Homo sapiens: one gene and its partners. The protein of the gene in region 7 purifies or fractionates together with the protein of the main gene of each other region. This does not show direct contact. Each region holds a gene or a part of one and is shown on either strand. Other genes may lie near its edges. The genes, in order: CLK3, CCDC9, RNPS1, GPATCH8, PNN, SNW1 and LUC7L2.

Region 1 (3,500 bases), on a different chromosome or scaffold from region 7:
ATTACTGGTGGCCCCGCTAAGGCACCACGCGCACTAGAGGCCCCTCCAGGCAGGAGAGGTCTCGTCTAACAAGGGGGGTAGAAAGTAGAGAGGTAAAGTTTTACGAAAGGTGGCTGTACATCGCTCTTGGAGCCAATCGCCGATCCGGCACACCAGGTGACCCTCCTTGTCATCTTCCACACTCCGGCTGCTGCGCTTACTGCTCTGTTGGCTTCTCTGCATGCACCGCCCCCCGAAACGCCATCCGACCAATCGCATGGTAGGCGGTTCCGATTGACAGATTGAGGTGTCAGTCAAAGGCAGAGGTGGAGACGGTGAGGAGCCGGTGGGTTGGTTGGTTGGATTTTCCAGATCCCAGCATTTCATAAGGCACACAGCATATATAACGATAGGGATATTGCAAGGGACACGTCAAGACACAAACTGACTTCAAAAACAGAAAAGTAAAAACAGCTACAGGTATGTAAAGAAAACTCGGACATTATCTTTAAGAGGAGCGCCACAAACGCTCAGGAAGATGACCTGCCTCTGCTGCTGAGGGCCACGCTGTGAGGAGAGCCATCGCCCCGACTCCCTCCTCCTCCTCCTCCGAGTCTCTCCCTCCCAGACCCTCCCATGTGGCTTTGGGCCAGAGCGGAAGATGCAGTGAGAACGGCGGCGCAAGAAGGCAGCTGGCCCCGCCTGGGTCCAACCATCCAGACTGGTCAGCGGCTGCTCCGGCTTCAGCTGCAGAATGCCCAGCCTGTCCTTGCCTGCCTCTGTTCGCCCACGCAGACTTGCACATGCCTGACAGCTGCCACTCACAGCCAAGCTGCTACCTGCCTCCAGACGGCATCCTTGGCCAGATTTCACCATCACTACCAGAAACAGCCTTCCGTCAGCAGCCCTCCTGCCACCAGCCTCAAGAAGGAAAGCAGCCTGGGATCCTCTGGGCCAGTCGACTGCCAGGCTTCCTACCACAATGGCCCACACAGGCCCCATGCCAGCTCCTGCCCTGGCCTTGGCACCCATGCTGCTCACAATCTAGGCCCATCCCAAGCCTCACGACGATCGATAGAGGGCACCAAACAGAGAAACAGAGCCAGACCTGCACTGCCATCCTGTGGCAGCATGTGGCAGTGTGCAAAGAGGTGAAAGGGCCACGCTGCAATCGCCCGCACAGTCAACCCTCAACCTGTAGCCACTCAAAGAAGTCACAGAAAGCGCTGGGCAGAGAAGACACCTGGCCTCTCCACTGCTCCTCAGGGGCCTCAAGGCCGGCAGGAGGGAGGCAGGGAAGAGGGATGGGGGAGAAGAGAAGACCGCACGTAACCTCGGAAATACACAACTGGCTTTGCTTCCCCAGGGGACTGAGCGCAATGTGGGCTCCAGAGACCTTACAACCCTCCATGCTAGGAATACTGGCCAGGCCCTGCTCTGGGCATGTGGCCTGCAACTGGACGAGGCCTGGGGCGGCAGCCTTTCTGCCATTTCTTCACATGCCCCATCACACAGGCACCTGCCCCTCCTCACCGCGACTGCCCCTCGTAAAGAGGCTCGGCTGGAGAGGGCCTGGCTGGAGATCAGAAGGGAAGTTCCCAGTCTGAGCTGGCTGACAGGCAAATCCTCCGGTCCTGTGAGGCACTCCAGACTGGGGGCCTTTGGGAAGGGGTGTGCAGATGAGACGCAGAGGTGGGTGCAGTCCACATCAGAGCACTCAGTTACACGAGGAGGCAGTCTCTGGGTGGGAAGGACCAGGCCATATAGCTGCAGACCACCATACCAGCCACTCTACTAGGATCCCTAAGAAGTGTCCTAAGAAGTGTCCCCAGCCACTTGCACCACGTGGCCTTTGTCTGGAGCACTGTGTAGACATAGACAGGCCAGGGGCCAGCCAGCATCGGAGCCAGAGTTCCTACAGTTGCCACTGGAAAGAGCCAGAAGACACAGAGGCCAGGACCCTGTGATCAGCCCTACACCTGGACCAGACAACACATACACACACACATGCACGCACACCAGTGCACGTGCACAGGGCTGGCAGTACTCACCCGGACCAGCCAGCCTGAGAGAAGGCTAGGAAGAGATGAGGCCTTTAAGCCCCAGCCAGCACACTCTGGCTACCACTCACCGAGGAGGCGCTGCTACAAGACCTGGTGCGGCGTTTGTGGCAGTGGTGGGCATGCTTGCGGGTCCGGTATGGCCCCCTCTCCCGCGATCGCCGACGATGACGAGAACGTGAAGGTCCATAGTAGTCCTCTCCAAAGGATGGGCTCCGCTCTTCACACCGGTATGTATCGCTGTCACGGCGCTCCCGGTACCTCCTCTGGTAGGGCAGGCGGTCATGGCTGCCAAAAGGGGGATGGGGACGCTGGTCAGCTGGGTCCTTGCTGTTAGCAAGCAAGAGACCTGTGGTAAGGCCACTGTAAAGGGCTAAAGGGGGACAGCCTGTGCTAAAAGCATCCACACTGGTGGGAAGTGGGCAGAGAGGGGAGGGTGCAAAGGTACTAAGCCCGCCCTCCAGAGCCCTGTCCAACGACAGCATCCTCCAGCTGTAGGAGGAGGGGTACAGGGGAAGGGGAGTATGGTAGAGTGCCTCCAAGGGTTCTATACCCTTCCAGAGTTCCCTGTGGCCTGCTGCAACTCTAAGTTTGACCTGGGAGCTAAGATAGGCCCAGGGAGCAAACTTTCCAGGGGTGAGGTTATGTTCCTAATCCTCACCAAGGAAGGCTTAGGAGGTTAAGCGGAAAGATGCTGGCCTAGAAAATGGGGGAATGTGTGGGGAGAAGAAAAGGCACTCCAAGACAGAGAAAGAGTGGGCGGCAAGGATGGTAGCTACTGCTGAGGCCAAGGCATGCAGGTGAGGTTAGTGGAGGAGCCCAAAGAGGACAGGGCAGGGATCCAGGGACAGCTGGGCAGGGATGGAGTCATCTCAAGGAGTCTGGAGCTGCCACAGCTGAGCCCAGCTGACAGAAGGAGTCTTTCCCTCCTATCTAGTTCCCTCTCACCTTCTGGACCGAGATCTTCGTGGGGGAGGCTCCCTTCGGGACGGGTATCGCAGTCTCCCTTCATGTTCCCGACTGTAGGACCTCCTCCTCTTCCATCGGTAGCTCAGGTACGGGTCTGGTTCAGGGGAGCGGTATCGCTTACAGTGATGCATCTAGGCCACGAGGAACAGAGAGCCCTGCTAAACACACAGCCAGCCACCTCCAGCCATGGGGCTGCTGGGGCTTCCCGGTTGCTCCTGAAGAGGCCCATTGTTCTGTTTGAAGGCGGCCCCTCCCAGAGGTTTATGAAGTGAAGAAGAACTCTGAGGTCACACTGGTCAAACAGCAGACAATAGGAAACAACTTTCTCTGCCAGTGAACAAACAAACAGCTCCCAGCAGAGCATCACTAGCCTGGTGGCCTGGGTGCTCAGGGAACTGGGTGAGCCAGGGCCAGGGGCTGAGGCAGTAACCCTGGGTGGGGACGGTGAACACTACCACAGGGAGATCAAAGGCAGGAGAAAGGGGAGCCTCC
Region 2 (2,965 bases), on a different chromosome or scaffold from region 7:
TTTCCAAAACCCCTGAGCTCGACTCCAAAATTCTAATCCTTTCCTTAACCCCACCTCCTCAACCTCCATACCAAATTCCTATTGGCTTGGCCCATAAAGTTGCCCCTTTGCCCCACCCCTGCCACCCGGCTCCAGCCCCCCATCCCTATCCGAGCTCACCCTTTTCACCTCACCTCTATGGTCCAACTGCTACCTACACACATTCACCCCACTCCCCCCAAGCCCTCTGCCCCTCAGCCCCAGAGAAAGAGGAAGCAGCGGCCTCCATCCCATGCCCCATGCACTCCCCCACCTGGAGTTGCCTCAGACCCTTCCTCTTCAGCTTCCTGGGTTCCTCGGAGGCTGGGCCCACTCTCCGGGAAGGCAGGGGCTGACTGGCCACCTCCTAGGGAAGGGGAGCCCCAGTCAAGCCCCCTTTCCCGCCTGACATCTCCCCACCCCAAGAGAGAAGGCCCAGGGGGAGTTGAAGGGGGTTCAAGGACACACCTGGGGGAATGTCATTGGAGGATGTGAATTCTTTATTGGGGAGGGGGCTCGAAGGGCTGGGGCAGGCTCTGGGAGTGGACATTCCAGAGACGGGCATGACAGTACAGAAGAGCATGGGCTGCGCTACCCCCTCAGCTGACAGGGCTGTGGGGCACACTGGGTCCCAGGGCCCAGCCCCAAGGGTCCCCCACCAGCCACACCCCTCTAGCGCGCGCGCGCGCGCGCGCGCGCGCGCACACACACACACACACACACACACACACACACACACACACACAGGCAGCCAGCTTCATACACTCTCAAAAGGCCAGGCCTCACCCGGGGAGAGGGCGCCAGCCAGGTGAGTGGTCCGGGGAGAATTCAGCTCCACCTCTTCACCCCAATCGGACACAGGCTGGTGGCCGCTGGGTGGTGAGAAAGGGCTGGAAGGCGTGCCAGGGGCCTGGGGCTCCAGCAGGGGCTCCTCCGGACTGAAGGGGACTCCGTGGGCCTGCTCACTGCAGGGGATCCCGGTGGGGGCAGCCTCTGGGGCTTGGTGGTCTTGGGCTGGTTCCTCCTCATCACCTTCTTCCACCTCGATCTCCTCCTCTTCCTCATCCTCACTTATGTCCTCCCATTCTTCATCCTCTTCCCCCTCATTCTCTTCCCCCTCGTCTTCAGGAGGCCGGTGGGCAGGAGCTGGGATCTCGGGTGGCTTTGGGGACACAGGCAAGTCAGGGCAAGGCACAGGTCCTGAGCCCCCACCCCAGGCCCGTGCCCTGAACCACAGCCCAGCCTCACCTGCATGGGTGTCTCCTTGGGGGAAGTCTCGGGGGAAGTAGGCTGTGGAGTCTCAGGGGCTGGGGATGCTGCCCCTTCTTTTGTCTCCCAGCGGTCATCATGGTCACTAGAGGGAACAGAGGGAGGGGTGATGCCTGGGTGGAGAGTAGACAGGAGGAAGGGGCTTCCTGCCTCCACCCTCCCTAGGGAGGAGCTGCCCAGAGCATCTGGCATGGTGGAGGGCTGAGGGAATGGCGGATGTGTGTCCCCATGTGTCAAGGACAGAACGAAAGTGGGGCAGGTAGCAGGAGAGGAGATGGGTGACGGCAGAAAGGGGACAGATGAGGGTAAAACCAAGAGCCAGATCCCAAGCCCCTCAAACCACGGACCTGCGAGATAGACAGGGCCAAGACAAAGACAGGGACAGACAGATGTACCCACACCTTCACAGCAAGCCAAAGAAGAGAACGCCCTGCGGAGAGCCCTGGGGGTATGCAAGCCCGCAGAAGGGGTGCCCCACCTGTAGGCCCTGGGCGCTGCCTTGGCCTGGGGCCGACTGCTCTTTCTCCTTCTGCGGCTGCTGGCCTCAGCTTTGTGCTGGGACAGGAACTCCCCAAAAGTAGGGGGCTTCGGGGGCCGGGCCCAGGCCTGGTCATCTGCAACAGAACCCAGGTGTCATTGGGAAGGGAAGGTGTGGCACACACCACCCCTGACTCCCAGACCGAGCCTCAGCTCATCCAAGGGCACCCACTCACCATAGCGGTGGGATGGTTCATGGGCAGGGACTGGGCCATCCTTGAACCTGGGGGAAAGATAACGGGTGAGCGGGCAGCTGGGGGAACAGGGTAACAAGAGGATCAAGAAGATGGGAGAGGTCAGGGTCAGGAATCGGATCAGAGACAGACGGTCAACCAGACAGGGGACACTAGAAGTAGGACAGGGCCGGGCATGGTGGCTCAAGCCTGTAATCCCCGCACTCTGGGAGGCCGAGGCAGACAGATCGCTTGAGCCCAGGAGTTCAAGACCAGCGTGGTGAACATGGTGAAGCCCCACCTCTACAAAAAATACAAAAATTAGCTGGGCGTGGTGGCACGTGCCTGTAATCTCAGCTACTCGGGAGGCTGAGGAGGGAGGATCACTTGAGCCTGGGAGGTCAAGGCTGCAGTGAGCAGTAATCAAGCCACTGTACTCGAGCCTGGGTGACAGAGGGAGACCCTATCTCAAAAAAAAAAAACAAAGGATAGGACCAGGTGATGGGCAAGAGGCAAATTTGACAGCATAGTGACAAATACAAAAAGATTCAGAATGTGGGCGCCAAAACAAAAATTTGGGGGGATCACCACAGACCCTTGCCCAAGTACATGACCCACAACTCCCTATCTGACCTTTCCCACCAGTCTCCCTCACCTCTCCAGCTAAGCAGGCTCTTCCACCACACCTAGCTCCTGCCTCAGGGCCTTAGCGCCTGCTCCTGGAACGTTCTTCCCACGTTTTTCACTGGCTCACTCCCTCACCTCCTTTCAGGGCTCTGCTAAGAGGCCTTCCTGAACCCCCAGCTAAGATAATATTAGGGCCGGGCACGGTGGCTCACGCCTGTAATCCCAACACTTTGGGAGTCCAGGTGGGCGGATCACCTGAGGCCAGGAGTTCGAGACCAGGGTGAAACCCCATCTCTACTAAAAATACAAAAATTAGCCGGGCTTGGTGGCTGGCACCTGTA
Region 3 (3,500 bases), on a different chromosome or scaffold from region 7:
TTAATATTTAACTACTCAGACAGTACTAAAACACTTGTTACAGAGGCCTGCGTTAGTGAGACCTGGCCTGCCACAATCCCCACTGTCAATTTGCTCATGCTTTTTATCATGCATGTATATGTATTTATTAATCACGAGAATCGTAGGGAGATGAAGCATTGTAATCTTTCTGGCTGCTTCCTGCTGAGAGAGGGTTGTCGTCATGGGGCACCAAACACAGCGCTGGAGTGGAAGAGGTGGATTTGTTCCCGGTAGCACTTTCTGTTCTGGGGGCTTCGAGGCAGCACCTGCTGAAACGTAATAGGATGCAACAGCCACACATAGAAGTAGGTTGCTGCTGTTTTCTTCCCAAGTTTAGTCTTCAGTTTACAGGGCTTGAGGAAAGCATAGCTTAGATTTCAGTGATTTCCAATTAGGAAAAAGGAAACAAAAAAGGAAAAAATTGAGAACAGTATTTGGGTGTACTATAGTTTTTGAAACAATTTTTTTTTTTTTTTGAGACGGAGTCTGGCTCTGTCGCCCAGGCTGGAGTGCAGTAGCACCACCTCGGCCCACTGCAAGCTCTGCCTACCAGGTTCATGCCATTCTCCTCCCTCAGCCTCCCGAGTAGCTGGGACTACAGGCGCCCACCACCATGCCTGGCTAATTTTTTGTATTTTTAGTAGAGACGGGGTTTCACCGTGTTAGCCAGGATGGTCTGGATCTCCTGACCTTGTGATCCGCCTGCCTCGGCCTCCCAAAGTGCTGGGATTACAGGCATGAGCCACCATGCCCAGCCAACAATTTTTTTTGGGGGCTTCCCATTTTTATTAAAAGACAAATAGGACTGGTATTTATTAAAAGACAAGACTGGTTTGCTTTATTATATTTGGCTTAATTATTTGTATACAGTGGAGCAAGAACCATAATTTTTTCTATAGGCCTTTTATCTGAGATAATACCTTTTTAAACCCAAGCCCAGCCATGGATATGTACAATTAAATACCTGTGAGTTGGGTGAAATCCTCTCCTCTTGAGGTTCCAAGATAACTTGAGGTTTTTGTCCATTAGAAAGTGGCATGTTTTACTTCCCTCAGATTAGAAACCCTGTACAGGGACTGTGTACACAAAATAGGAGGCCGGTTTTTTATTTGTGTTCTGTTACAAAAGAAAACGGATTTTTATTGCACTTACGCAAATAACTATATTGCTATAAATTAAGAATACGTACAAATAGACTGGGCAACATGGATCACCTGAGGTCAGGAGTTTGAGACCAGCGTGGCCAACATCGTGAAACCCCGTCTCTAATAAAAATACAAAAATTAGCCGGGCATGATGGCACACACCTGTGGTCCCAGCTACTTGGGAGGCTGAGGCAGGAGAATTGCTTGAACCTAGGAGGCAGGGATTGCAGCGAGCCAAGATTACGCCACTGCACTCCAGCCTGGGCAACAAAGTGAGACTAGGTCTCAAAAAAAAAAAAAAAAAAAAAAAAAAGAATACACACACACACACAAATAGTTTCCAAATTCTGAAGAAATTAGGTAGAGAGAAACAAATATGCTCCAAGTTTTGTTCCTAGGCGTATACTTAATTGTTGATAGCTTAAAACTTTTTTTGACTTTGAAAAATAAAAGGATTAGGAATATTTTAAGCAAAAAGTTAAAAAGATTACTTCAGTGTTCTATTAGTTCAGTTTATGCAGTTAATTTCTGCCCTGCTTGATATTAATGAACGCTTTACCTTTCTTTTTTTTGAGACGGAGTCTCGCTCTGTCGCCCAGGCTGGAGTGCAGTGGCGCAATCTCGGCTCACTGCAAGCTCCACCTCCTGGGTTCACACCATTCTCCTGCCTCAGCCTCTCGAGTAGCTGGGACTGCAGGCACCGGCCACCACACCCAGCTAATTTTTTGTATTTTTAGTAGAGATGGAGTTTCACCCTGTTAGCCAGGATGGTCTGGATCTCCTGACCTCGTGATCCGCCCGCCTCAGCCTCCCAAAGTGCTGGGATTACAGGCGTGAGCCACTGCACCCGGCCTTATTTTAGCTCTTTAAGAGTCCTGAATGTTTTTTCTTTATTCTGATGTCACAATCTGCAAAGTTATTAGAAATCTGTATTTAAGAGCAACTGTTAGAACTCTATAGCTGATTATAAAACCACCTTCTAAAAAGGATTAAAACAAGACAACAATTGTTTATGGATGACAAAAAGGTTTTAGGGCAGCCATAGTTAAAGACACAATTGACGAAATTTGTTAGCTCTGTGGCACACAATAATTTAACATAACAATTATAATTATTACTGATCATGTACACTAGGATATATTGCAATTGTAGGAGTTTTACGTGATTTTGGGACACATATCAATAACATTTATACAAATACAGCCCAAACAAAGCCAAACCCAATTTTATATTTGGTAGTGCTTCCTGTATAATTTTTGGTACCAAATAAGCCAAATTTCACTTTTACATCAGTGTGCTGTTAATGTTAAAACCCAATCCTTTTTTTTTTTTTTTTTGAGACTTTTTTCTGCTCTTGTTGCCCAGGCTGGAGTACAATGGTGCAATCTTGGCTCACTGCAACCTCCGCCTCCTGGGTTCAAGCAGTTCTCCTGCCTTAGCCTCCCGAGTAGCTGGGATTACAGGCAACCTCCACTATATCCAGCTAATTTTTGTATTTTTAGTAGAGACATGGTTTCACCATGTTGGCCAGGTTGGTCTTGAACTCCAGACCTCAGGTGATCCACCCGCCTTGGCCTCCCAAAGCAGCTGGGATTACAGGTGTGAGCCACTGCGCCCGGCCTAAACGTAATTTTAATGCTTAATTTACAGAAAAACTAGATGATACCCCTTTAACTTTAGCCAGCATGTTTACATACAGAATTTTCTTTACAATCAACCTCCCACACCTTTTTTTGAGACAGAGTCTTGCTCTGTCGCCCACGCTGGTGTGCAGTGGCATGATTTTGGCTCACTGCAACTTCCACCTCCTGGGTTCAAGCAATTCTTCTGCTTCAGCCTCCCCAAGTAGCTGGGATTACAGGCTCCCGCCACCACACCTGGCTAATTTTTGTGTTTTTAGTAGAGATGGGGTTTCACCATGTTGGCCAGGCCTGTCTCAAACTGCTGACTTCAGGTGATCCTCTCGCCTCAACCTCCCAAAGTGCTGGGATTACAGGCGTGAGCCAACGCGCCCGGCATGGATTCCAGTTCTTAGTGGGTGTGTGATTACCGAAAAGATGTTTTAGGAACACCTTTTTTTTGTAGCTCCAGTTTAAAGGAACACTATTCTTGGGGGAAAAAAATTAGCAAATATGCGTAGATTAACATTTTAGAGAGTTTCCAATCTGTTAAAAGCTTAAGGATCAAATTCAGTTTTCTTACATAGAATACATTTGGCTTTTTATATGGGAATATTTCCTTTAATCATTTCTGAGAACCAGAAGTTTCCCAGTATTTCAGCATTTTTAGTTTATTTTGCTGAGTGACTGGATTTACTGAATCTATACAGTTTAT
Region 4 (3,500 bases), on a different chromosome or scaffold from region 7:
TAAGAATAAAACTTGGTCAAAGATTGCCTTTTACCTGTGCACTGAAATCTTATGGTTGGTGGAAGATGAAGGCTAAAAAAAAATCTTAGTTCAACAAGTCCAGCTTAGGAGACATCATTCCAATGCTCATAAATTTACAAGTTTAACAAATACAACTATTGTACCCCCCAAAAACCTAGTAAGTTATGTTAAAGTCACCCAAGATCAAATGGCTTGAAATTCTTTAACAAGCCAGAACTGTCCTATAGGTGTAACAATTTATTTTTCCCTTCTAAACTCTCCCAGGGGGATTATTGCCATCTTCTGTATATCAGTAACTAGTTAGGTACAATTTTCTCCTCTAAAATGATGGGGTGGCGGCGGGGGAGGGGGCAAAGACTGCAAAGTGTAATTCATTTATCAGCTCTTCAACATGCAGCAACAGAGTTTTTTGTTAAAGTTAAGATAGCATCTAATTTTATTTTCCTTCTCAAAATTTATCTAACTTCCAAGGTATATTGAATAGCAAAATGACTTAATAATAGAAAATGGTAGCCAATAAAGCATGAAATCTTATGTAGGGAACTTGAAAATAACAGTCTGCTGAATAACTCTTCAAAGTTTAACGCGTTAAGAGCAGAAATGGAAACAAAGCTCCCAGTGACCCTCAGCTGAATTACAAAATTAAATAAAAACTTAGAAATCAATAAAAGGCAAAAACATTATATAAGATTTACAAAACACAATTTGTCAAATAGTGTATATGTGGGAGTGTGGGCTGGAGGTGGTGTCTATGTCAGGATTTCTGCCACTGAAAAAACAAAGTGTGTTGGATGACTGCAGATAAAGATTGGCAGACACAAGAAATCATAGACACCAAGTTTTGGGGGGTATACTCATAAAATCCAATTGTTGTAACAATAGATAGGTACCTTCTTCTGTTAGCAAGTAACTACAACTCACCTGCTTGTGTGCATGATCATAGGAGTTGATATGGTTATCAAATTCCTGATGTTTCTGATATTGCTTATCACACAGTTCACAATAAAAGTTGGCTCTGAGGTCTTCCAAGGCTTTGGCAATTGCCTTCTCTTTGTCAACATAATCCTTCAAGACCCATGAAATACAAAGAAACAAAAAATGAACTTGGTAAAACTTTAAGTGAATGTTATAGAGAAAACAGTCTATCTGAGAAGACAAAAAAGGGCTTTTCATAATATTTAGTGGTACCAGTAAAAGCTGGATGAAACACAAGTGGTACTTTGGTGGGTAATCTGTGTGTCGTCATACTAACAATTGTCTTCAAATAAACAAATGTTTAAAAGGACTAAGGATGCTCAACTGATAAGTATAATGCAAATATTCCAAAACCCCCAAAAAATCTGAAATCTGAAACACCTTTGGTCTCAAGCATTTTGGATAAGGGATATACAACCTGTATTAATAGTCTAGTTTTCAGACACGAAGGAAAAAAGCATTACCTGAGTCTGTAGCCAATGATGGAGTTAAATATTCTATGGTCATTCTACATATAAGCTGCACTGCTTGGAAAGCCAACCCACAGATATGTGTTATCTGCTGGTCTCAGCGAGATTGAAAACTGTGGGACTCTTACATGTGAGAGGAGGTTGGAGAAAAACAACAACAACAAAAAACTGTGGGACTGACTCAAAGGCAGTCCAATTTGCCTCAGCAGTTTCACTTAAAAACTAGACATCAAAAGACATCTCAAAAAGGAAAAAAGAGAAAACAATTAAAAGATACCTCAAAGCAAGTTGAGTATATTCATTTGCTAATGTCGCACAGAAGGATGAGAAAGGGACAGGAATGCTAAGTGACTACTTGCTTGACTTTTAGAGCAGGGTAGATGCATTACTTTCATAATGAGCAACTCCTTCTAGCAGACTGACCTAAAAAAGATAAGTCTTATCTCAAAGACTATATCTACAGTTTCAAAGCAGCTCTATCATCTCCCATAAGAGCTACTTAATCAGTAAACAAGAAAAGGTTATTATTTTCTGGAGTGGCAGTACTGAACTAATTTGGACAGACTTATTAAAACTGAAAAGTGAGTATGTGTAGCACATTGTTATTTTTGCCCTATCTAATCCTTCACAATAATTTTCTTTGACAGTCCCGGACAGTTTCATGTTGTTTGGCTATTAAACGACTTGTGGCTTTTTTGCCCAGGCTGGAGTACAGTGCAGTTCATGGCTCACTGCAGTCTTCACCTCCTGGGCTCAAGCAATCTTCCCACCTCGGCCTCCCAAGTATCTTGGACTATAGGCGTGTACCAGCAAACCTAGCTAACTTTTGTATTTTTTGTAGAGATGAGGTCTCACTATGCTGCCAAAGCTGGTCATGAACTCCTGGGCTCAAGTGATCCTCCCACCTTGGACTCCCAAAGTGATGACATTGCAGGTGTCAGCCCCCACACCTGGCTGCAAATTTAAGCAACAAAACTAGAGTTCCTGGTATGAATACAGCAGTATAGGAAAACAGCTTTGATTTTCTTCTTGGGTATCATAAAAACAAAATTATGAATTAAAAAAACCCCACCAACTGCATTTTCAGAAGAACTGGGCAACAGATATGATCTGGAGTATGAAAAACACACAGAAGGAAAGTTAAGCTCTTTATAGAACCTGAATGAGGGAAATGTAGTAGAAGCCAGACAAGGCAAAGCTAAGCAATATCAAAAAAGCCAAAGGTGGCAATTTCAGAAAATGGCAAAACATATATCCTGTACATAAAAGGATCCTCTGAAATGAATATACCTACATCTCTTGCACTCATCAAGAATTTCTGAGATCTGGGAAGAACAAAGGGATGAACTTGGGTTAGGGTGGATGAGGAAACATTTGCAGTACAAAGAATGCACATAGAGAAAAGCAAAAAGTTCTGCCCAATTGCGGCAGATCTAAGAAAAGGCTGAGGCCAGGTGCGGTGGCTCACGCCTGTAATCCCAGCACTTTGGGAGGCCGAGGCAGGCAGATGGCTTGAGCTCAGGAGTTCAAGACCAGCCTGGGTAACACAGTGAAACTCCGGCTCTACCAAAAATACAAAACATTAGCTGAGCATGGTGTCACTTGCCTTTGGTCCCAGCTACTTGAAAGGCTGAGGTGGGAGGACCACTTGAGCCTGGGACGCAGAGGCTGCAGTAAGCCAAGATTGCGCCACTGCACTCCAGCCTGGGTGACAGAGTGAGACCTTGTCTCAAAAAAAAAAAAAAAAAAAAAGGCTATCAGCACATGCTCACTAAAGGAAGATCCACTCAACTACACAGGACAAGAAAGGGCACATAGTGTGACAATGAAAATGGTCCCAGAACAATCAGTGACAATCAATAGTGTAGTAAAGTTATTGAATCTTAAAGACAGACTCCTTTCAGCAGCTAGGCAAAAACAATCAAGAAGGGGAAGATCAGGCCAGCCTTTGATCTCTTCAACAACACACACACACACTCTCTCTCTCTCTCTCTCTCTCTCTCTCTCTCACACTCTCTCTCAACTCCAGAAGAC
Region 5 (2,734 bases), on a different chromosome or scaffold from region 7:
TAAGACCCTGTCTCCGAGAAAAAAAAAAAAAAAAAAAAAGATTAAAATGGCCCCTGCACAAGGATGACATGCAAATTCATCAAGCATTCCATATAAGAAAAATTCCTTTCACATACTATGATCAGTAGCGCTTAACTGAAATTACTGAAAATTACTTTCCCCTCAAGCATTCATTATACCCCCATTACTACCCCTCCTATAGTAGAGCTTCAAGCCAATACTAGCCTTTTCTGTAAGCAACATGAATATTGTTCAGATTTTCCAGGTACAAATCAGTAGACAAAACTTAATTTGTATAAAGGATTTTAGTGCATACAAACTGTCATCAAATAAGGTGCTTTTTAACCAGGTTAAATTTTATGATCATCCCTTTAATTCACTATTTACCAACCTCTTTCCTGCCAGGGCACACAGGAAATGAAACATTTTGCTGGATAAGCCACAGATGAAGGTACTAGTGGTGGAACTGGCTCATGGATACAGATTGCTGTGCAAAGCTCTATGCATTTACTGTTTTAATAATTACTCCAATAAAAGGATTTTTAAAAAGAGATCTTTTAACACATCCACTTACACAAGTGAGTTATATACACACAAAAACTAACTGGAAATACTTCTTCACATTTTCACTGTAACCATTTACTTGTCAAGGGAAGGCAAAATGAATATTCAAAGTCAAGGCTAAAGCTACAGTGTTAAACTCAAAGAAGGATGCAATTTAAGTGCTCTCTTGTATAAAGCATCAGAAAGTTAATACAAGTACTAGTCTTAAGCAGTCACACAAGTCTAAGCCACATTTATTTGCACATGTATAGTAATGGCCAACAGATACTCCAAGTTCATACAAATTTGTAAAACAACAAAGTTAATAATCACTTGGTACACTTGTGTGTTATCTTGCTTACATATTAAAACCTAGATGAACTTCCTTCATTTTGTGGACTTCCATACAATACTTCCTTAAACAAAATTCTTGAAAACACATATCAGCATGTTTAAGTTAGAGCCAACACAAAGTTAAGACAAGACACAAACTCAAAAACCAAGTTTGAAAGATACTTTTCTACCTCCCTCCCCTAGAAAGAAGTGATTTTCTTTAACAGATGTATGTTATATCACACAAGTAACCATGAAGACAAAAGAATGACGCTCCCATCATCAGGAAGAAAATGCCAACCAGATCATACTGTTTAGTTATCTACCGAACATATGGTTAAAATATGAGAAACGGGGGAAAATGCTTAGATTAAAATAACAAGGGAGAATAGAAAATAGCAAATGATTTTAAAGAGAACTGTTCCCCCTCAAAGCTGCAAAGCTCTGACTCTGACAACTAAAAACTGTCCAAGGCAAATAAAAACGAGGAAACCTTCAAAAACATTCTAATCACGTGCAGTATCTAGTGTTAAAAGCTGAAAATGATAAAGAGGATATTTATTATACAAGTGTCAACGAGGACATCCCAAAAATAATGAAATAAACACACATTTATTTCTACAAAAGCAATGTATGATACAGAATTAGAAGGGAACAGACTTAAAGATTTGCCTATTAAAATATACAGATTCTTACTGAAGAGTATAGGATATTTAAAAAAGATGACAAGGGATGTTAATCTTTTTTTATTATTATCATTTTTACATATTTTGGAACCTCACATAATTTTGATAAATAACTCTTACAAAATTATGCAAAAAGTACAAGAATGTCTGGTAAACAAACAGTCTGTATTTTCCAAAAAGATTTTTTACAACATGCAATTCTTAAGGCAGCATCCTCTTTACAAGGAAAGGTAATCCTTTTTTATCAAGAAATCTTCTGCTGCAAAGAATGGCTAAGAAAGCCTGGCTTCTTCCATTAACGCCTTTTGTCTTTCCTGTCTGATTTTCGGTCTCTTTCACTTCTTGAAGATCTTTTGCCTGATCGACTACTCTCTGATATAGACCTCTTTCTGTCGGACCGGGAATTCTTATCCTTTGATCCTTTTGTATCTCTACTACTACCACCTTTTGAAGATTTGTGACTTCTTTCTAGTCCTGAAGTATCCCTTCTCTTCCGATCCACGCTCCTTCTGTGCTTTCTATCTCTATTATGTCCCCGGCCCCTACTCCGACTTCTACTCTCACTACTACTACTAGTGCTACTGCTACTATCTCTGCTGCTGCTGCCACTTGTACTGGAGCTGCTACTGGAACTACTGCGACTGCTACTACTTCCACTGCTGGAACTACTTCCACTGCTGCTACTGGTTGAACTGCTACTAGAACTGCTACTGCTACTGCTTCGACTTCTACTCTTGCTTGTTTTATTTCTAGCTCGACCTCTACTTCTGCTCCTAGTTTTGGTTTTGCTCTTGCTCTCTGGATGTACTGTCAAGACTGGCTCTACTGGTACCTCAGTGAGTTTTACAGACTCTACAGGAAAATCCTTCCTCTCAGGTAGTAAATGCCCTTGCTCCTGAGTAACTTGGGGTGTTGGCTGTAAAACAGCTAATGACAAATCCTCAGGCTGAGAGGGAGGCTGGGACTGGAGTACTGGTTGGGACTGGGATTGAAGCTGAAGCTGGGGCTGAGACTGAGGCTGAGGTTGAGCCACAGGCTCAGGTTGGGGCTCAGATTCTTTTTCTTCTTTTTCCTCAGACTCCTTTTCCATGTCTAAAGCACTGACATTCTCTTTCCCAGGAGAAAGGGTTTTACATTCTTTATCTGGCTCAATTTCAAATTCCATTTCTGGT
Region 6 (3,500 bases), on a different chromosome or scaffold from region 7:
CCATTATCGAGGCTTCTTCTGATTGCCTTAGTAGTAACCCCTCCCCACCCAATCATTTGCTCCATAGCACTGTTTACTGTGATCAAGACTGTTCACAGCATGAAATTATCTACTTTACATGGTTATTATCTGTCTCCCGTATTAAAACAATAAAAACGGGGAGGGCACGGTGGCTCACGCCTGTAATCCCAGCACTTTGGGAGGCCGAGGTGGGTGGATCACCTGAGGTCAGGATTTCAAGACCAGCCTGACCAACATGGTGAAACCCCGTCTCTCCCAAAAACAGAAAAATTAACCAGGCATGGTGGTGGGTGCCTGTAATCTCAGCTACATGAGACGCTGAGGCAGGAGAATCGCTTGAACCCAGGAGACGGAGGTGACAGTGAGCCGAGATCATGCCATTGCACTCCAGCCTGAGCAACAAGAGTGAAACTGTCTCCAAAAAAAAAAAAAAAAAAAAAAGTGTCTCCTGTGCTTTATAATAATGACTGGAGATATTTGATCAATATTTTTTGTACAAATGAATAAATAAATGAATTTTAGAGATATTCTGTTACATGCTAAAGGTGTTTATAGGCCATGAACAGTGACTCACGCCTGTAATCACAGCATTTTGGAAGGCCAAGGTTGGAGGATAGCTTGAGCCCAGGAATTCGAGACCAGCCAGGGCAACATGGCAAGACCTATCTCTATTTTAAAGAATGGATGGATGAATGAATAAATAAATAAGTTTATATTTTAGGCCGTACAGAACTTTCTATAAGCTACTGATTTCCCAGAAAAAACTATCTCATGGCTATACACTAAAATCTCCAGCTTGTTTTTCTCAGGAGTGAGAAGAGGGATCAGGTAAGAAAGCCTAAGATGATTTAGCACAAAACACGTACTACTGATATGTGAGTTATTAGTGTCACCATACTCTAAGAGTGTTGATTTTGGAAGGGACCATAAAGCTCACTCTACTGAAAAGAGTGAGGTTCAGTACATTAAGATCATACAGCTACTATCTGACCTCAAAAGTCTTATTTCCTCTCAGCATGGAAAAACCTATACAACCCTAAGCTGAAAATTATATAACAACACAAGAAAAAAATACCAATTCTATGAAGAGTTAATCATGAGGAGTTTATCACTTCTCCATAGCAACGGTTATAAGGAAAGGATTCTAAGTAAATGGCTCCCTGGTAGTCATGTATGTTCAACATAAAGTGTCAATACTAATTTAGCATACAAGAGTCATTTGCTGCTCCTTATTTGGGCATTCCAAAGTTAATAACCCTTCAAATGAGCATCAATAAGATTCTAGTATCTCACAAGGCTGAGTGAAGGACATCTGAAGAGCAAGATTCCTCCATAGTAATTAATTATAAAACCCCCCATTTTTTTTTTTTTGAGACGAAGTCTTGCTCTTGTTGCCCAAGCTGGAGTGCAATGGCGTGATCTCAGCTCATAGCAACCTCCGCCTCCCGGGTTAAAACCATTCTCCTGCCTCAGCCTCCCTCCCAAGTTGCTGGGATTACAGGCGCATGACACCACGTCCAGCTAATTTTTGTATTTTTATTAGAGATGGGGTTTCACCATGTTGGCCAGGCTGGTCTCGATCTCCTGACCTCAGGCGATCCACCCGCCTCGGCCTCCCAAAGTGCTGGGATTACAGGCGTGAGCCACAGCACCTGGCCAAAACCCCAAATTTTTATAGTCTGAGAATTAAATGTGCTGAGGAAACTGAGTACCAGGAGGCAAATGGGCTGGGGAGCGTTTTCTGAAAAATACAATATACTCTTGAAAGTATCAGAAGCACAAATAAGCTTTGTCAACAAGATAAAGTAGTAACTCATCTGTGAAACAGATATTTTATTACAGAAAACTGGCAAAGAACTAGACTGACTAAAAGGATAAGCCTGTCAAAACATTCACTATGTGAGGTAGAAAGAAAACGCTAATCTAGCTTAGCTAGTGTGTGAAATCATACAAACAAGATAACATATAATTTATCATGGGGTCAGTTTAAAGTTGTTACGGTTTTTTAGGGGTAATACGTTGAAGGCATTCTTTTGGGTATAGTACGTGTGTAACATTTCGTTTCTTTAAGAGATAGGGTTTCATTATATTGCCCAGGCTAGTCTCAAACTCCTGGCCTCAAATGATCCTCCCACCTCAACCTTCCCAAAGTGCTGGGATTACAGGCATGAGCCAATGCACTTGGCCTGTATGTAGTATTTCTTACATAACTATTTCAGAGGGAAAAATACATACACCAAGCCCTTTATTTCAAGATTTATCACTTGGCTGGGTGTGGTGGCTCATGCCTGTAATCCCAGCACTTTAGGAGGCCGAGGTGGGTGGATCACCTGAGGTTGGGAGTTGGAGACTAGCCTGACCAACACGGAGAAACACTGTCTCTACCAAAAATACAAAATTAGTCAGGCGTGGTGGCACATGCCTGTAATCCCAGCTACTCAGGAGGCTGAGGCAGGAGAATCACTTGAACCCGGGAGGCAGAGGTTGCGGTGAGCTGAGATCGTGCCATTGCACCCCAGCCTGGGCAACAAGAGCAAAACTCCGTTTCAAAAAAAAAAAAAGATTTATCACTTTCATAATTAGGAAAAAAAAAGCATTTGGTTGTATCAAGATTTACACTAAAAAAAACTTTTTCATCCCCAATTTTGTATGACTAATAAGTCGTATACACAGTACTTACTTCACATGTAGAGAATTGCCTTAGACTTGTCCTAGAATATTACGTCTTAGAATCCTCACTGATTCTTCTCACCTCTTATACCTAACACCTAGTATTTTCCATTCTTACTCATTCACTATTAATATTTCAGTGAGAACTCCCTCGTTTCTGAAGAATACCAGACCTCTCGGAAGCAAATCAGAAATCTTAGTCCAAATTCATAAATCCAATAACCTGTTCAGTCTCTGGAATAACAAATTTTTTAAATCCTATTTTATATATTATGCAGTCCATTTCTATTTCTTCTAAAACAGGAAAATCAGTGATTGTCAAACAGGGCATCACTGCCACCTCTAACTCCTCTCTCCCAGTGCCTTTGTAAATGTGTGAGGTGTTTCTAGTTAAGACAATGGGGGTAGGATGGGGACGCTACTGGGATTTATAGGTAGTGCCACTTATGCTAAACATTGTACAATGCTGAAGATGGTCCTAAACAATCAAAGTGCTCCCCCAGTGCCAATGGCACATAATAGTTACTTGATTAATGTTGAATTACTCAATGCATTCCAAACTTCATGCATGAATCTATCCACTTCTAGAAAACAAACAAACAAAAAGATATAAACCTGAGAGTGGTCCCAGTTTGGGGTTTGTTTCTAGTGGCTGCATTACAGACAAAAGCAACGATCTGGCCGGGTGTAGTCGCTCATGCCTGTAATCCCATCACTTTGGGAGGTTGCAGTGAGCCAAGATCGTGCCACTGCATTTCAGCCTGGGTGACAGAGTGAGACTCCATCTCAAAAAAAAAAAAAAAGAAAAA
Region 7 (3,500 bases):
CCATCCTGATGCTGCTGCTTTTTAAAGATATGAGTAAAATGCTTGAGTTCTGTTGCTAGGTCTATCTGCAAAGACTCCCAAGTAGGAACCACTGGAGTTTTAACTTGGAGCCTAGTAACTATTTGCTATAGTGACTCTTTTCGAAATTTTTAAAAAATTACTTGAGATCACCCTAGCTACTCAGAATACTGAAAAGAGCCCACTGTTACCTGAGAATATGGAGATGTCCCTAGGCATTTTCTGATTCTATATTATTTTAAATGCTATGGACCTTGAGTTAATTCCAGTTGACAATAACAGTTACAAAGAAAATGACTATCCCATGTTTCCTATCTGTCAGCCAGACCTCAATTCATGAAAAAACACTACAGTGCCACAATTCTTAAAAAGCTATCAGCATATTAAAAGGTAAATAGATTATATCCACCAACACTCATCTTTACCACTTCAGAAATATCACCATGCTTTTTTGTGTTTATCCCCTCTAAACAACAAGAGTAAAAACTGTGTTGTCTTCCCCACAAAAGCCTATATTATTTAAGTAATAGTGATTGTCCTTTTAAAAAAATATAAATTTTTTCATAAGTCCTTTCTGAAGTGGAAGCAGGAGCATAAAATAAAACTAGAGATTCTGCAAGCTTGCTATTTAATAAAGAATTGCAAAATATTTCAAATTAATATTGGGTTCATTTTCTCAAACTTCTTATAAATATTATATTATTACATTCTTATTGACCTTATTGAAAAGAACAATAACAATGAAGTTTTATGGGACTCTTTTAGTAACTAGTTTGAAAGATCCCTAACTCGGTGTCATATCTAATATAAAATGGTAACTCCCAAAATAACAGGATAATATTAAGTCTGTTTCTCAGGCAGCATCCATTAAACCAACTTGAATTTCCATCTATAATCCTACACTGTTTAGTATTAATCATTAGATACTATATTACTGAATCATAGTCAAGAATATTGTACAAAAAGGCAACTGATACAGATCAAAAGAACAAGAGGATAAAGTGAGGAATATTTTACCAATGTACCTTTAATTCTTCAAGCTTCTCTCTTATTTCAATAAATCCCAGGTGCAGTTTACCCCCAAAATGATCAGCCAGTCGTCTGTCATTATCATGAAGTCCTAAATAGGCAGAGCAGACTTCACAGACTCGAAGTTTCTGCTGCTGAAAACTGGAAGCTGGCATAGAATTCCGATAAACTTCCTAAACAAAAGTGAGAAAAACAATGACCATATAAATCTCACTAAAAGTCATACAATTAAATAAAATATACTATGCTTATACCAAAAGTGTTTTCTAAAAAATACACAAAAGTGGCTGGGCACGGTGGCTCACTGGGGCGAGACTCCAGCTCAAAAAAAAAAAAAAAAAAAAACCACAAAAGCATGGCTATTTTGTTATGAAAATTATAGGTTCCCTTTATCCCCATCCTCTATCCTTAGCGCCTCTCTCCACTGGAGTATAAGGAAATAATAAACATGAACAGAAATCAATGAAATAGAAAACAAGAAAAAAACAATAAAATCAGAAGACTGGTTCTTTGAAAAACAAAATAAAACTGACCAGCTAGATTAATTAAGAAAAGACACGAATTGCAAACATTCTACAGATATTAAAAGAGAACACTATGAACAACTTTATATCAATAAATACAACTTAGAGAGATTTTCTGAAAGACAAATTTACCAAAAGTATTTTAAAAAACAACAACAACAAAAAAACAGGCCAGGCCGGGTGGCTCACGCCTGTAATCCCAGCACTTTGGGAGGCTGAGGTGGACAGATCACCCCAGGTCAGGAGTTCAAGACCAGCCTGGCCAACATGGTGAAAGCCTATCTCTACTAAAAATACAAAAAATTAGCCGGGCATGGTGGTGCACACCTGTAGTCCCAGCTACTCAGCAGGCTGAGGCAAGAGAATCGCCTGAACCCAGGAAGCAGAGGTTTCAGTGAGCTGAGATCGCACCACTACACTCCAGCCTTGGAGAGAGAGTAAGACTCTGTCTTAAAAAAAAAAAAAAAAAAGGCCCTGGTGCAGTGGTTCATGCCTGTAATCCTAGCACTTTGGGAGGCCGAGGCAGGTGGATCACCTGAGGTTGGGTGTTCAAGACCAGCCTGACCAACATGGAGAAACCCTGTCTCTACTAAAAATATAAATATTAGCCAGGTGTGGTGGCATGGGCCTGTAATCCCAGCTACTTGGGAGGCTGAGGCAGGAGAATCGCTTGAACCCGGGAGGCAGAGGTTGCGGTGAGCTGAGATCATGCCATTGCACTCCTGCCTGAGCAAGAAGAGCAAAACTCCATCTCAAAAAAACAAAAAGAAGAAGGCTGGACTTGAACTGGACTCAAGCGATCCACCTTAGCCTGCAAAATAGCTGGGACCAAAGGCACGCACCACCACAACCAGCTTTTTCCGAGTTTTGTTTTGTTTTTGTCTTTTAGTTCAACTTCTCTTTAACAACTGTTCAATAATTTCCATTCAAATACATGTTCTTAGAGAAGTATAGATACTGAAGTTTCATCTACTACTTTTTATTTGTAGTCTTACCAAATTAAGCAGAATTCGTCTACTACTATTAAGAATTTACCTCTGCTTCTCTTTTCTTTGCCCGTGCTTTCTCTACTTCATCCATTACTTTCTGGGATTCCTCCACATTCCCTTCAGCTCCTAGTTGTTCCACCTTGGCTAACAATTTACCAATTTCTTCATTTAACTCATGAACACGTTCTGCCTAAAAAGAAATAAAAAAGAAGATCATGAATAAACAAGAGAATGAATTTTAAATTTCAAAGTATTTCAGAACTGCTGAGAAAAAACTTGTTATCTAAGGCAGTATGTGGTTAAAGAATGCTTTCTGAGCGTATCCCAAATGAACTACTGAGACATCAGGATGTTCTGAGCCTGCCTGCCTTACCTCAATGAAGTCAGGGCTACTACTGGGCCCAATATAACTTTCTATCCTCTGGCGAGGTGGTGTATTCCTAGTGTAAAATACGATTTCTTCCATGATCTGGCCCTTTGTACTTTTCTAAACCATCTCTTGCTACTCCCCCACCTCACAACATAATTTATAGTTTCCCCAAACTTACCCTGTTGTTTTCTACCTCTGTTACTTTGCATATACTCTTCTTTCTGGGATGGGATCCCTTACCTCTCGCCTGCCTACTGAATATTCACTCGTTCCAACAAGATACAACTCAAGGGCCATTTCTGTAAAACATTCCTGAACAGTCACCACATCCCAGCCCCACTTAAACACATCAGCAAAGATGGCCATACTCTCTCCTTTGTGTCACCTTTGTATCTTTTTTGACAGTTCCTTTCATAAATATCATACTACTTTAAGGACAGCTATCTGTATTTCCCATCTTTGTATCTCTAGTGCTCAGCAAATAGCCTAGGCTCAAATATGAGTTAAAGAAATGAATTGGTGGATCAAGTTCAGGAATCCATCAGATCTGACTTATTGCTAAACCAATTA

What was found.
Region 1: the proteins of LUC7L2 (region 7) and CLK3 purify together in Homo sapiens (affinity purification with mass spectrometry; 4 studies listed by BioGRID and IntAct, with this or other methods). This does not show direct contact.
Region 2: the proteins of LUC7L2 (region 7) and CCDC9 purify together in Homo sapiens (affinity purification with mass spectrometry; 4 studies listed by BioGRID and IntAct, with this or other methods). This does not show direct contact.
Region 3: the proteins of LUC7L2 (region 7) and RNPS1 purify together in Homo sapiens (affinity purification with mass spectrometry; 6 studies listed by BioGRID and IntAct, with this or other methods). This does not show direct contact.
Region 4: the proteins of LUC7L2 (region 7) and GPATCH8 purify together in Homo sapiens (affinity purification with mass spectrometry; 4 studies listed by BioGRID and IntAct, with this or other methods). This does not show direct contact.
Region 5: the proteins of LUC7L2 (region 7) and PNN purify together in Homo sapiens (affinity purification with mass spectrometry; 4 studies listed by BioGRID and IntAct, with this or other methods). This does not show direct contact.
Region 6: the proteins of LUC7L2 (region 7) and SNW1 purify together in Homo sapiens (affinity purification with mass spectrometry; 3 studies listed by BioGRID and IntAct, with this or other methods). This does not show direct contact.

What each region holds. Positions count from the first base shown.
Region 1 is NC_000015.10:74,618,836-74,622,335, reverse strand, and holds part of CLK3 (dual specificity protein kinase CLK3), read right to left. Parts: intron 3,140-3,500; coding exon 2,988-3,139; intron 2,328-2,987; coding exon 2,111-2,327; intron 217-2,110; coding exon 120-216; intron 1-119. UniProt on the Homo sapiens protein: Dual specificity kinase acting on both serine/threonine and tyrosine-containing substrates. Phosphorylates serine- and arginine-rich (SR) proteins of the spliceosomal complex.
Region 2 is NC_000019.10:47,269,489-47,272,453, reverse strand, and holds the end of CCDC9 (coiled-coil domain-containing protein 9), read right to left. Parts: intron 2,048-2,965; coding exon 2,001-2,047; intron 1,902-2,000; coding exon 1,766-1,901; intron 1,373-1,765; coding exon 1,267-1,372; intron 1,181-1,266; coding exon 776-1,180; 3' UTR 501-775; downstream 1-500. UniProt on the Homo sapiens protein: Probable component of the exon junction complex (EJC), a multiprotein complex that associates immediately upstream of the exon-exon junction on mRNAs and serves as a positional landmark for the intron exon structure of genes and directs post-transcriptional processes in the cytoplasm such as mRNA export, nonsense-mediated mRNA decay (NMD) or translation.
Region 3 is NC_000016.10:2,258,127-2,261,626, reverse strand, and holds part of RNPS1 (RNA-binding protein with serine-rich domain 1), read left to right. Parts: intron 1-3,500. UniProt on the Homo sapiens protein: Part of pre- and post-splicing multiprotein mRNP complexes. Auxiliary component of the splicing-dependent multiprotein exon junction complex (EJC) deposited at splice junction on mRNAs.
Region 4 is NC_000017.11:44,423,407-44,426,906, forward strand, and holds part of GPATCH8 (G patch domain-containing protein 8), read right to left. Parts: intron 1,087-3,500; coding exon 943-1,086; intron 1-942.
Region 5 is NC_000014.9:39,180,987-39,183,720, reverse strand, and holds the end of PNN (pinin), read right to left. Parts: coding exon 1,858-2,734; 3' UTR 501-1,857; downstream 1-500. UniProt on the Homo sapiens protein: Transcriptional activator binding to the E-box 1 core sequence of the E-cadherin promoter gene; the core-binding sequence is 5'CAGGTG-3'. Capable of reversing CTBP1-mediated transcription repression.
Region 6 is NC_000014.9:77,740,657-77,744,156, forward strand, and holds part of SNW1 (SNW domain-containing protein 1), read right to left. Parts: intron 1-3,500. UniProt on the Homo sapiens protein: Involved in pre-mRNA splicing as component of the spliceosome. As a component of the minor spliceosome, involved in the splicing of U12-type introns in pre-mRNAs.
Region 7 is NC_000007.14:139,404,894-139,408,393, reverse strand, and holds part of LUC7L2 (putative RNA-binding protein Luc7-like 2), read right to left. Parts: intron 2,751-3,500; coding exon 2,607-2,750; intron 1,221-2,606; coding exon 1,044-1,220; intron 1-1,043. Other genes in the region: FMC1-LUC7L2 readthrough protein, read right to left, coding at 1,044-1,220, 2,607-2,750. UniProt on the Homo sapiens protein: May bind to RNA via its Arg/Ser-rich domain.